2 separate regions of the Homo sapiens genome follow, and region 2 is reported to be linked to region 1. The links are microRNA targets in miRTarBase. Many come from high-throughput screens and were not tested one by one. Region 1 holds a microRNA gene; the other region holds the end of a gene's coding sequence.
The links. The annotated mature microRNA hsa-miR-208a-5p reads GAGCUUUUGGCCCGGGUUAUAC and lies in region 1 at 4,203-4,224, shown strand. An mRNA with a match to its seed (bases 2 to 7 or 8) in the 3' UTR can be bound and repressed. Matches are read on the target gene's strand: a 7mer-m8 pairs with bases 2 to 8, a 7mer-A1 pairs with bases 2 to 7 and ends in A, and an 8mer does both.

Region 1 (6,464 bases):
GATAGAGTGCAGGGTGCTGCGCCTCCACTGGCCACAGTTGCCTTGGGTATGCTGGGAATAAGGTCAATCACAGCCCTCTTCCGCCACTTTCTGGGCTGGCGAGGGGAGGGGGAGGTGCCGATTCTGGCATACTAAGGCCAAGAAGAGAATGAGCCCCAGAGGAAGGAAGGCTACCTGTCACTCCCCCACCCCCACCCTTCTCCTGCAGGAAGGAGTTTGACATTAATCAGCAGAACAGTAAGATTGAGGATGAGCAGGTGCTGGCCCTTCAACTACAGAAGAAACTGAAGGAAAACCAGGTGACTTTTTTTCCCAGTGCATGAAAGTGGGAGCTCAATAGCCCTGAGGTAACTGAGGCTGCAGCAGCTGCTTAGGGTTCTACACAATATCTGGAACTCCAGGCAGCCTCATAGACCCAACCATCCCTGACTTACAGGCGCTCAGGAACACTAGCCTTCCCCCATAGAGCAAGAATACATTACGTTAGCAAAACTGTTTGAGAAGGGGGACTCATACCTACTAAAGGGCTTCTCCTTCTGAGATCTGCTCTGCCTCAGGGACTTTCTACTCTAAGACAAATGATAGAGCTCTATTCTCCTCTAACCCTTCCTCTGGTAGTTCAGCCCTCTGAACGCAGGGTGAAAAAAAAAAAAGGCTTCAAGGAGCACCTTCCTGTGAGCTGCTCTGTTCATATTCTTCCCGGTACTAACCCCAGCCACTAACCCAGGCTGAGTCCCCATAGGGCACTCATGATAAGAGCCAATTCCAACAACTGTGAGCAAGTCACTTACCCTCCCTGATCCTCAGATTCTCTTCTCACCTGTAAAATGAGACTGACAATACCTACCACACAGGACCAGAGGGGATAATGTATTTGAAACCATTTTGTCAACTAGGAAATTCTATACAAGTATCATATTAATATAGCCCAATTTAGAGAAGTCAGCCAGCCACTAGCCTAAGAAGGTATTGTTTTGTCTTCTCAATGGCCTTCTCATTCCTCTGCAGCTCAAGATTTAGTGAACAGCCATAGTCTCCCTTAGCTTTAATGAACCTCAAACCCTAATGTGCTTTTAGTATCGGGTTTGTCAGAAGAGACCTGGAAGTCCACTGCCATCCCCATTATAGAGCTACAGAAGCTACATGGCCAGGTCTGGACATAGTGACCCCAAGGGCAACAGGAACTCGGCTACTGGGGCGGGACCTTGTCCTCTCACTTTGGGGCAGACTGTGGCTGGTAGAAAGAGGTAGTCTCCCCTCTGCACTTGAGGCCCATGGCCCAGGCTGCAAGTAATGTATGAACACAATTCCACTCCTCTGGGGCTGCACAGGGACTGGCCCGCCTTCATTAGTAATTTGCCCTCCCATCTTCTTGGATGCCCCTTCTGGGTTTTAGCTAGAATATCGGGCCATCCTCAGGTTCTTCTACCCTAGGTCTGGGCAACTTGTTTGGCCTCTTGGACACAGAATAACAGTCCTGTTAGTCTCATCAGCTCTCGGCAATAGGCTATGGCTCCTCCTTCATCCCCAAGATCTTGCTCAGAAGTCCCACCTTCTCCATCCTGGGAGCAGAGGCATGGTGGTCCTCTCTGCTGCTTGTAGGACCCATCCATGAACAGTCCATTAAAGCTGTCCATAACCCGAGGTGAAGGGATTTCCACTGAACCCCCGTTTTGCTCCTGGCTAGCCAGACAACAGATCAAAATGGTAGATACGATATTCTCCCAATTTAGTCAAGACCAAGGCTAAGGCCCAAAAAATGAGGTAAGGGCACTTAAAGAGGATAAGGAGATGAGGTGAAGAGGAGAGTAGCCTGCTAGCACTTTCCTGGCCTGGAAGGGAGCAATCATGTTGAAACCCAGCCCTGGGCATAAACACAGCAAGCCTGGGAGAGCAAGGAATATGGTTGATTGGACTTTGTGGTTAACTTGGAGAATTGCAAAGGTATCTGATTGTTTCGAGGCATGTTGTCACAAATATTTGTAAAATACAAGCACTCATTTTCCCGTCTTATGAATAGCGCAACAGAGCCTAGTGAATCTGGGGACTCTGAACTTCTTGATCTCACAGGATACCAGGATCCCCCTTCAACCACAGGTTCTCAGGATTTGGGGCTGCAGATGCTCACACTGGGTCTGAGATGCCCTTGGGAGCTTCAGCCAAATTCCTATTGATGGCCTATGCATTATAGGATGTTTAGTAGCATCCCTGGCCCCTACCCTCTAGATGCCAGTAGCAAGCCCCACCAAGACATGACAATCAGACATTGCCAACTGTTCCCTGGGGCACAAAATTGCCCCTAGTTGAGAACCACTGCTTGAGAGGAACCTAAGTTCCTGGTAGCTTTTCAGAGCCGGGGGGATTCCAGTGGAGGGGTCCAGGCGGTGGGTCTGAGCCCTTTGTGTCTGACCCAGGCACGCATCGAGGAGCTGGAGGAGGAGCTGGAGGCCGAGCGCACCGCCAGGGCTAAGGTGGAGAAGCTGCGCTCAGACCTGTCTCGGGAGCTGGAGGAGATCAGCGAGCGGCTGGAAGAGGCCGGCGGGGCCACGTCCGTGCAGATCGAGATGAACAAGAAGCGCGAGGCCGAGTTCCAGAAGATGCGGCGGGACCTGGAGGAGGCCACGCTGCAGCACGAGGCCACTGCCGCGGCCCTGCGCAAGAAGCACGCCGACAGCGTGGCCGAGCTGGGCGAGCAGATCGACAACCTGCAGCGGGTGAAGCAGAAGCTGGAGAAGGAGAAGAGCGAGTTCAAGCTGGAGCTGGATGACGTCACCTCCAACATGGAGCAGATCATCAAGGCCAAGGCAGGCTCTGCTCGGCCTCCCCTCGCCCTCTCCCCTGCACAGCGGAGCCTCCCCCATGCCTTCTCTCTCTGTCTGCCATCTCCCTTGTCATTCTCATTCTCTTCATCACCCTTTGGTCTCTCTTCCTGTCTCCCCTGCCCCTCTCTGGCTCTCCTCACCCTCTCTATCTCTTCATGTTCCTCCTTTCTTTAATTCAAGTCTCTCTTCAGACTGCGCCCTCCCACACCTTCTGTGTCCCCCTCCTGCCCTCTGGCATTCCCCATCTCTGACCCTCTCTTCCTTCCTCTGGTCGACTCAGCCCCTCCCACACTCACCCTTCCTGTCTTGCTTCCTGAAGGCAAACCTGGAGAAAGTGTCTCGGACGCTGGAGGACCAGGCCAATGAGTACCGCGTGAAGCTAGAAGAGGCCCAACGCTCCCTCAATGATTTCACCACCCAGCGAGCCAAGCTGCAGACCGAGAATGGTGGGTGCCCCTAACCAACCCCCTGCCTAGGGCAGGACATGACTTGTGAAATGGCCCACAAGCCCCTCATTTCACCTCCAGGAGAGTTGGCCCGGCAGCTAGAGGAAAAGGAGGCGCTAATCTCGCAGCTGACCCGGGGGAAGCTCTCTTATACCCAGCAAATGGAGGACCTCAAAAGGCAGCTGGAGGAGGAGGGCAAGGTGAGGCCCAGTGGGGAGGGTGGGCAGGCTTGATGGCAGCCCTGGGGCAATTCATCTCAGTGCCAGAAATGGAGCCTGGAGCTGGAAAGAGTCCTCTGCAAGGGAAAGACCCTCCAGTCTAGGTTCTGCCCTGCAGCTAAGCGTCATTTAATGCCTCTTTTCTTATTCGTAAGGGGATGGGGTGAGCAGACTGGGAAACTCCTCAAACAGTGAGGTGCCACATCAGCCCACATGGTGAATAAGGCTGGGCTTGGTTGAAGTACTACATAAGAAGAGAATCTAGAGAATGGGGCACAGGGAGTCCCTCCCACCTCCTGGTGCCCCCCCCCCTCCCCAGGCGAAGAACGCCCTGGCCCATGCACTGCAGTCGGCCCGGCATGACTGCGACCTGCTGCGGGAGCAGTACGAGGAGGAGACAGAGGCCAAGGCCGAGCTGCAGCGCGTCCTGTCCAAGGCCAACTCGGAGGTGGCCCAGTGGAGGACCAAGTATGAGACGGACGCCATTCAGCGGACTGAGGAGCTCGAAGAGGCCAAGTGAGCTCCAGATACCCCCTTAACCTGACTCTCAGAGAGGAAGGGGCGAGAGGACCTGGGGTGGGGACAGGCAAAGTGGTCATGAGACGGAAGTGGAAGAGACAGGAGGAACTCGGAGGGCAACAGAAGTGCTTGGAAGAAAGCCTGAACTCTTTGCTCTGTGAACTCTGGCTGGCCCTGACCCACTTCCTGTGACGGGCGAGCTTTTGGCCCGGGTTATACCTGATGCTCACGTATAAGACGAGCAAAAAGCTTGTTGGTCAGAGGAGCTACCGTCGATCAGCCTGTGTGGGGGGTGAGGGCAGGGGGCACTGACACCCAGATGCCACTGCAGGTAGGGAGGACGCCTGGGCAGCCCGTGCTGGCGGACTCTGTTCCAGGCATGAGCAGGCTCAGCTCCTGCTAGGCTGGACTTACGGTGTCTCAAGGAGATATAGGGAGGGGGTGGAAGGAGGTCCACCCAAGGCTCCAGTGTTGCCCAGTAGAGTCACACACACACCCTCCACCCTCACCTGGGCAGAAAGAAGCTGGCCCAGCGGCTGCAGGATGCCGAGGAGGCCGTGGAGGCTGTTAATGCCAAGTGCTCCTCACTGGAGAAGACCAAGCACCGGCTACAGAATGAGATAGAGGACTTGATGGTGGACGTAGAGCGCTCCAATGCTGCTGCTGCAGCCCTGGACAAGAAGCAGAGAAACTTTGACAAGGTGGACCATGGGCGGGGGCCGCAGCCAGCATGCAGGGCAAGGGGGCATGAGGGGTTCAGTGAGAGGCCAAAGGCAACCTCCTTGGAGGTGGAGGAGGAGGGCTAAGCCCAGGCTCGGGACCAGGGACAGATCTTGGACATGCGGCTGAGGCTGGGGGCTGGGGCACTGGGAAGCAGGAGGGCTGGGGAGCTAAGGCTGGGGGGCTGAAGAGTGAGCCTTGTCCCCGGGCAGATCCTGGCCGAGTGGAAGCAGAAGTATGAGGAGTCGCAGTCTGAGCTGGAGTCCTCACAGAAGGAGGCTCGCTCCCTCAGCACAGAGCTCTTCAAGCTCAAGAACGCCTACGAGGAGTCCCTGGAGCACCTAGAGACCTTCAAGCGGGAGAACAAGAACCTTCAGGGTGTGCTGGGGGTCCAAGAGGCCAGAGATGAGTTGGTGGGAGGGAGGGCCATGCAGGGGCAGGGGGAACATAGGCTTTGAGCTTTCTGGCCCTCTGGTCCCCAGAGGAAATCTCGGACCTTACTGAGCAGCTAGGAGAAGGAGGAAAGAATGTGCATGAGCTGGAGAAGGTCCGCAAACAGCTGGAGGTGGAGAAGCTGGAGCTGCAGTCAGCCCTGGAGGAGGCAGAGGTGAGGGCCGAGAACTCCCTGCACCCCATCCCTGTTCTGCCGCTGTCTCCCACTTCTCCCTCACCTGGGGGTGACCCTGACCCCAGGACAAAATCTATTCATTCCATATTCTTTGTTCAACATTATCTACCCACTATTCACTACCCATGACTGCCTCCAAAGCCAAGGTCTGCACAAAGGAAAATGTCAGTCTGATTAGAGGCCAAAGGTTTTGTTTCCCACCAGGTTTTAAAAGTTGGAATCTGGCCATAATAATAACCACTTAGACAGTGGGTAGGAGTGTGGGGTTCCAGAGTCAAACAGGCCTGAGTTGGAACACAGCTTGAGGACTTTCACTGCAGCGTTGGGCAAAATCTTTAATCTCTCTCTGCCTCAGTTTTCTCATCTGTAAAATGGAATTAACTGTACATACCTCATATGATTTTACACATGATTATTATAAAGATTAAATGAGGTAACACATTTAAGCACTTAATATATATTAGCTATTGTTACTCTTCATTTCTAAGCACCTGGGAATAGCCCTGAGTTTTCTGGGCTTCTAACTTTTCTCAGGAAAGGGTGAGGGACCTGGAAAACAAGATAAAATTTTGTATTTGTGGTTATAAAAATTCCTCCATTTTCTATAATACTTTAGACAGGTCAGGAATTTATGCAGTGTTAGTGCTGGAGGGTCTGGCAATTGTGAGGTCCAAACCCTTTTCTTGACAGGGGAAGCCCAGAGAGTCCAGCACTTTCTCCCCAATAGCACCGTGGTGGGCATGGGGTGCAGATCCCACCTCCCCATCTCTTCTCAGCTCTTCTTCTCTGGGCGATAGTCCTGGCTGACACCGTGTATCTTCTCATCCTCCCTCTCAACCCTGCCCTGTGCCCTGTCTGCCCGCCCTCGCCCCACCCCTTCCCAGGCCTCCCTGGAGCACGAGGAGGGCAAGATCCTCCGGGCCCAGCTAGAGTTCAACCAGATCAAGGCAGAGATCGAGCGGAAGCTGGCAGAGAAGGACGAGGAGATGGAACAGGCCAAGCGCAACCACCAGCGGGTGGTGGACTCGCTGCAGACCTCCCTGGATGCAGAGACACGCAGCCGCAACGAGGTCCTGAGGGTGAAGAAGAAGATGGAAGGAGACCTCAATGA
Region 2 (3,000 bases), not on the chromosome of region 1:
GTCACAGGCATGGAGAATGGAGATGGAGGGGGAGCCCGGTCCGTGGGCCCCAAGAGCCGAGCCGGACGAGGGATGGAGTGGGGAGACGCAGGAGGGCGGTGTCTAGGGCTGGGGAATGGAGTCGTGTCTGGCACCCCGGTGGGGACTGTATTGGAAGGCAGCCCAGAATGGGCAGCGGCGAGGAGTGAACACCTGGCTGCAGGTGACGGCCTGCAGGAAGGAGGCGAAGATGGCCCCAGGGAACCAAAGAGGCTTTGCCGACCCCCGGGAGAGGAGGAGGTGGACTGGGAACCCCTGGCCAAATTCCGAGCAGCCTGCGGGCCAGAGCTGGCAGACCTGGTGGCTGAGGAGTTGGCCTTTGCTAGGCAGCATGGGACCCGGGGTTTCCACTGGACCGGAGCTGGCTTTGCCCTTAAGGACGGCACCTCGGACTTCTTCCTGGATGGGGCCCTGACACGCTGCAGCTGCTCAATTCACGCCGCCCGCCGTCTGCCCTGCAGACACCTCTTTGCAGCGCGCCTCCTCACTGGGGCTGCCTTATTCCACATGGACCTGCTCAGGGATTGCTGGGGGAGAGCCCCAGAGCCCTGACCCTTCATGCCTCTGCCCACCACCCTCCACCAGGAGGGTCGGAGGGCATTCTTCGATCCCAAAGATAATAGGGCTGAGGCCAAGGAGACCGTTGCAGTCCCCCTGGCCACCTTCTGGGTCATCCAGGGACCTCCTCATGGCAGTTTGCCTCTCTGGGTCCAAGGGCAAGCTGTAAGTGGTCTCTGAGGTCCTGGAGCCACAGCTTGGGAAGGTGTTGATGGGCAGGGTGGATTCTGAGGGCTTCCCTCTGGAGAGGAAGCATGTGATGAGAGGTGTAGACAGGGTCAGGCTGGGACAGAAGGAAGGAAAGGGGCAGAGCTGGGGGGAGGGGGAGGAAGCGATCATATGGGGAGTGTCTGGCAAGAGTAGACTGGCCAGTCTAGGGAGTGCAGCGGGGAGAGGGGAAAGGGAGAAAGTACAGAAGACAGATGAAGGAGAGGAGGTAAGCGAGAAAAAATGGAAAGGGGAGCCGGAAATGGAGGAGAGAGGACAAGCAAAGAGACAGAAATGAAGACATGAGGAAAAGCTGGGGGAAGCAGGAGAGGAAGGGACGGGATGTAGGAGGGGGAAGAAAAATCGGAGATGAGACAAAAGAAATGTGTGGGAGACGGGTAGAGACGAAATGCAAGGGGCGTGGTTTTGGTTTTTCTCCAAGACCTGGAGACATCGACCCCCATCGCCTTCTGAAGAGAGAGGGAGGGCGGGCACTGGGGGTCAGGAGAGTCTCCAGCAGGGGAGGGGAATTGTTTGGACTATTGTTCTTCAGGATTGGAATAAAACAATCTTATTTTGGTTTCCGTGATGAGTTCTTGGCTTCTGGGGTTGGTTGGGAGTCCCAGATCCAGGGAACAGTTGAGATGGTCCAGCGTTCCTTCATTCTTTCTACCGACAAGGCCTCCTGGGGCCAGATGGATAGAGGAGCCACAATGAATTCATCTCCATAGCAACTCAAGCTTCCTCCTCCATCATCTGGACCAGTGCGTCCCAGTGGCAACTTCTTGACATGAGTCGATTCTACCTTCAAATGACTGACTCATGCCAAATGTCCTGGCCACAGAATGGGCCTGTGACCCAGTCCTGGTCAACGAGTCTGCTCAGGTTGAGGTGGGAGGCTTTTTTATTTTTATATTTTTGTAGAAACAGGGTCTTGCTATGTTACTCAGGCTGGTCTTGGACTCCTCGGCTTAAGCAATCCTCCTGCCACAGCCTCCCAAAGTGCTGGGATTACAGGTGTGAGCCACTGTGCTCAGAACTAGGAAGCTTTTTTTTTTTTTTTTTTGAGTCTTGCTCTGTTACCCAGGCTGGAATGCAATGGCACGTTCCCGGCTCACTGCAACCTCCACCTCCCAGGTTCAAGTGATTTTCATACCTCAGTCACCTGAGTAGCTGGGATTACAGGTGTGCGCCATCACACCTGGCAAATTTTTGTATTTTTAGTAGAGACGGGGTTTCACCATGTTGGCCAGGCTGGTCTCAAACTCCTGACCTCAGGTGACCTGCTCGCCTCAGCCTCCTAAAGTGCTGGGATCACAAGCGTAAGCCACTGCGCCCGGCCTAGGAGGCTTCTAATAAAGATTCTATCACTCCTAAGAAGGCCTAGAGACATGATCAGGCCTAGACCTGCTGATGATTACCTTGGTATGGTGTGATAATGAAGTCCACACTGAGGATGACAGAGCTGAGATGAAGAAAATCTGGATCTTTGCTTGGCTCAGTTGAGTCTCTCGAGTCTGCTCTACCATGGGGCTTCTTAAGTAAAATATATCCTTTTTTGTTAGAGACAGTGTCTCGCTCTGGCCCAGGCTGGAGTGCAGTGGTGCAAACATAGCTCACTGCAGCCTTCCAGCTCTTGGGCCCAAGGGATCCTCCAGCTCAGCCTCCTGAGTAGCTAGGACTATAGGCTCGTGCTACCACCTAGCTAATTTCTTTTTCTTTTCTTTTCTTTTCTTTTTTTTAACTTTTTGTAAAGATGAGGTCTCTTGCTACGTTACTTGGGCTGTTCTCAAACTCCTGGCCTCAAGCGATGCCCCTGCTTCAGCCTCCCAAAGTGCTAGAATTACAGATGTGGGCCATTGCACCTGGCCAATCAAAGATACCCTAATGATTTAGGGAAGTTTGAGTTGGGGTTTCTGTTGTCGCAACTGATGAAGGGGATTTAATTCTATTATAGGTGACAAAGTCCAGGTTGAAGTAGCTCAGCATTTTTCAAACTTTAGCGTGGACGTGAGTCACGTGGGCACCTTCTTAAAATACAGAGTCTGACTCAGTAGGTCTAAGATAGGGCCCAACATTCTAGCAAGCTCTCCGATGATGTGGCTGTGCTGGGTTGTGGAGCACACTTTGAGTAGCAATGAAGGAACTTGAGATAAAAGACAATTCAGGCCGGGTGTGGTGGCTCACACCTGTAAT

Region 2: the mRNA of ZSWIM9 is a reported target of hsa-miR-208a-5p. Seed matches in the 3' UTR shown: 7mer-m8 at 1,113-1,119.

Annotation. Positions count from the first base shown.
Region 1 is chr14:23,386,397-23,392,860 of GRCh38, reverse strand. It overlaps MIR208A (microRNA 208a), which reads left to right and starts at 4,195; the gene lies at 4,195-4,265. MYH6 (myosin heavy chain 6) reads left to right here. Exons shown (of 39, transcript NM_002471.4): 25 at 209-299; 26 at 2,415-2,804; 27 at 3,142-3,268; 28 at 3,350-3,468; 29 at 3,806-4,002; 30 at 4,523-4,706; 31 at 4,938-5,103; 32 at 5,208-5,332; 33 at 6,238-6,464. RefSeq lists enhancers at 2,710-3,313, 3,314-3,917, 5,967-6,464.
Region 2 is chr19:48,196,237-48,199,236 of GRCh38, forward strand. ZSWIM9 (zinc finger SWIM-type containing 9) reads left to right here. Exons shown (of 4, transcript NM_199341.4): 4 at 1-1,384. The coding sequence ends at 591. Among named protein-coding and RNA genes, the nearest start is that of ZSWIM9, 27 kb to the left of the region's middle. RefSeq lists an enhancer at 278-790.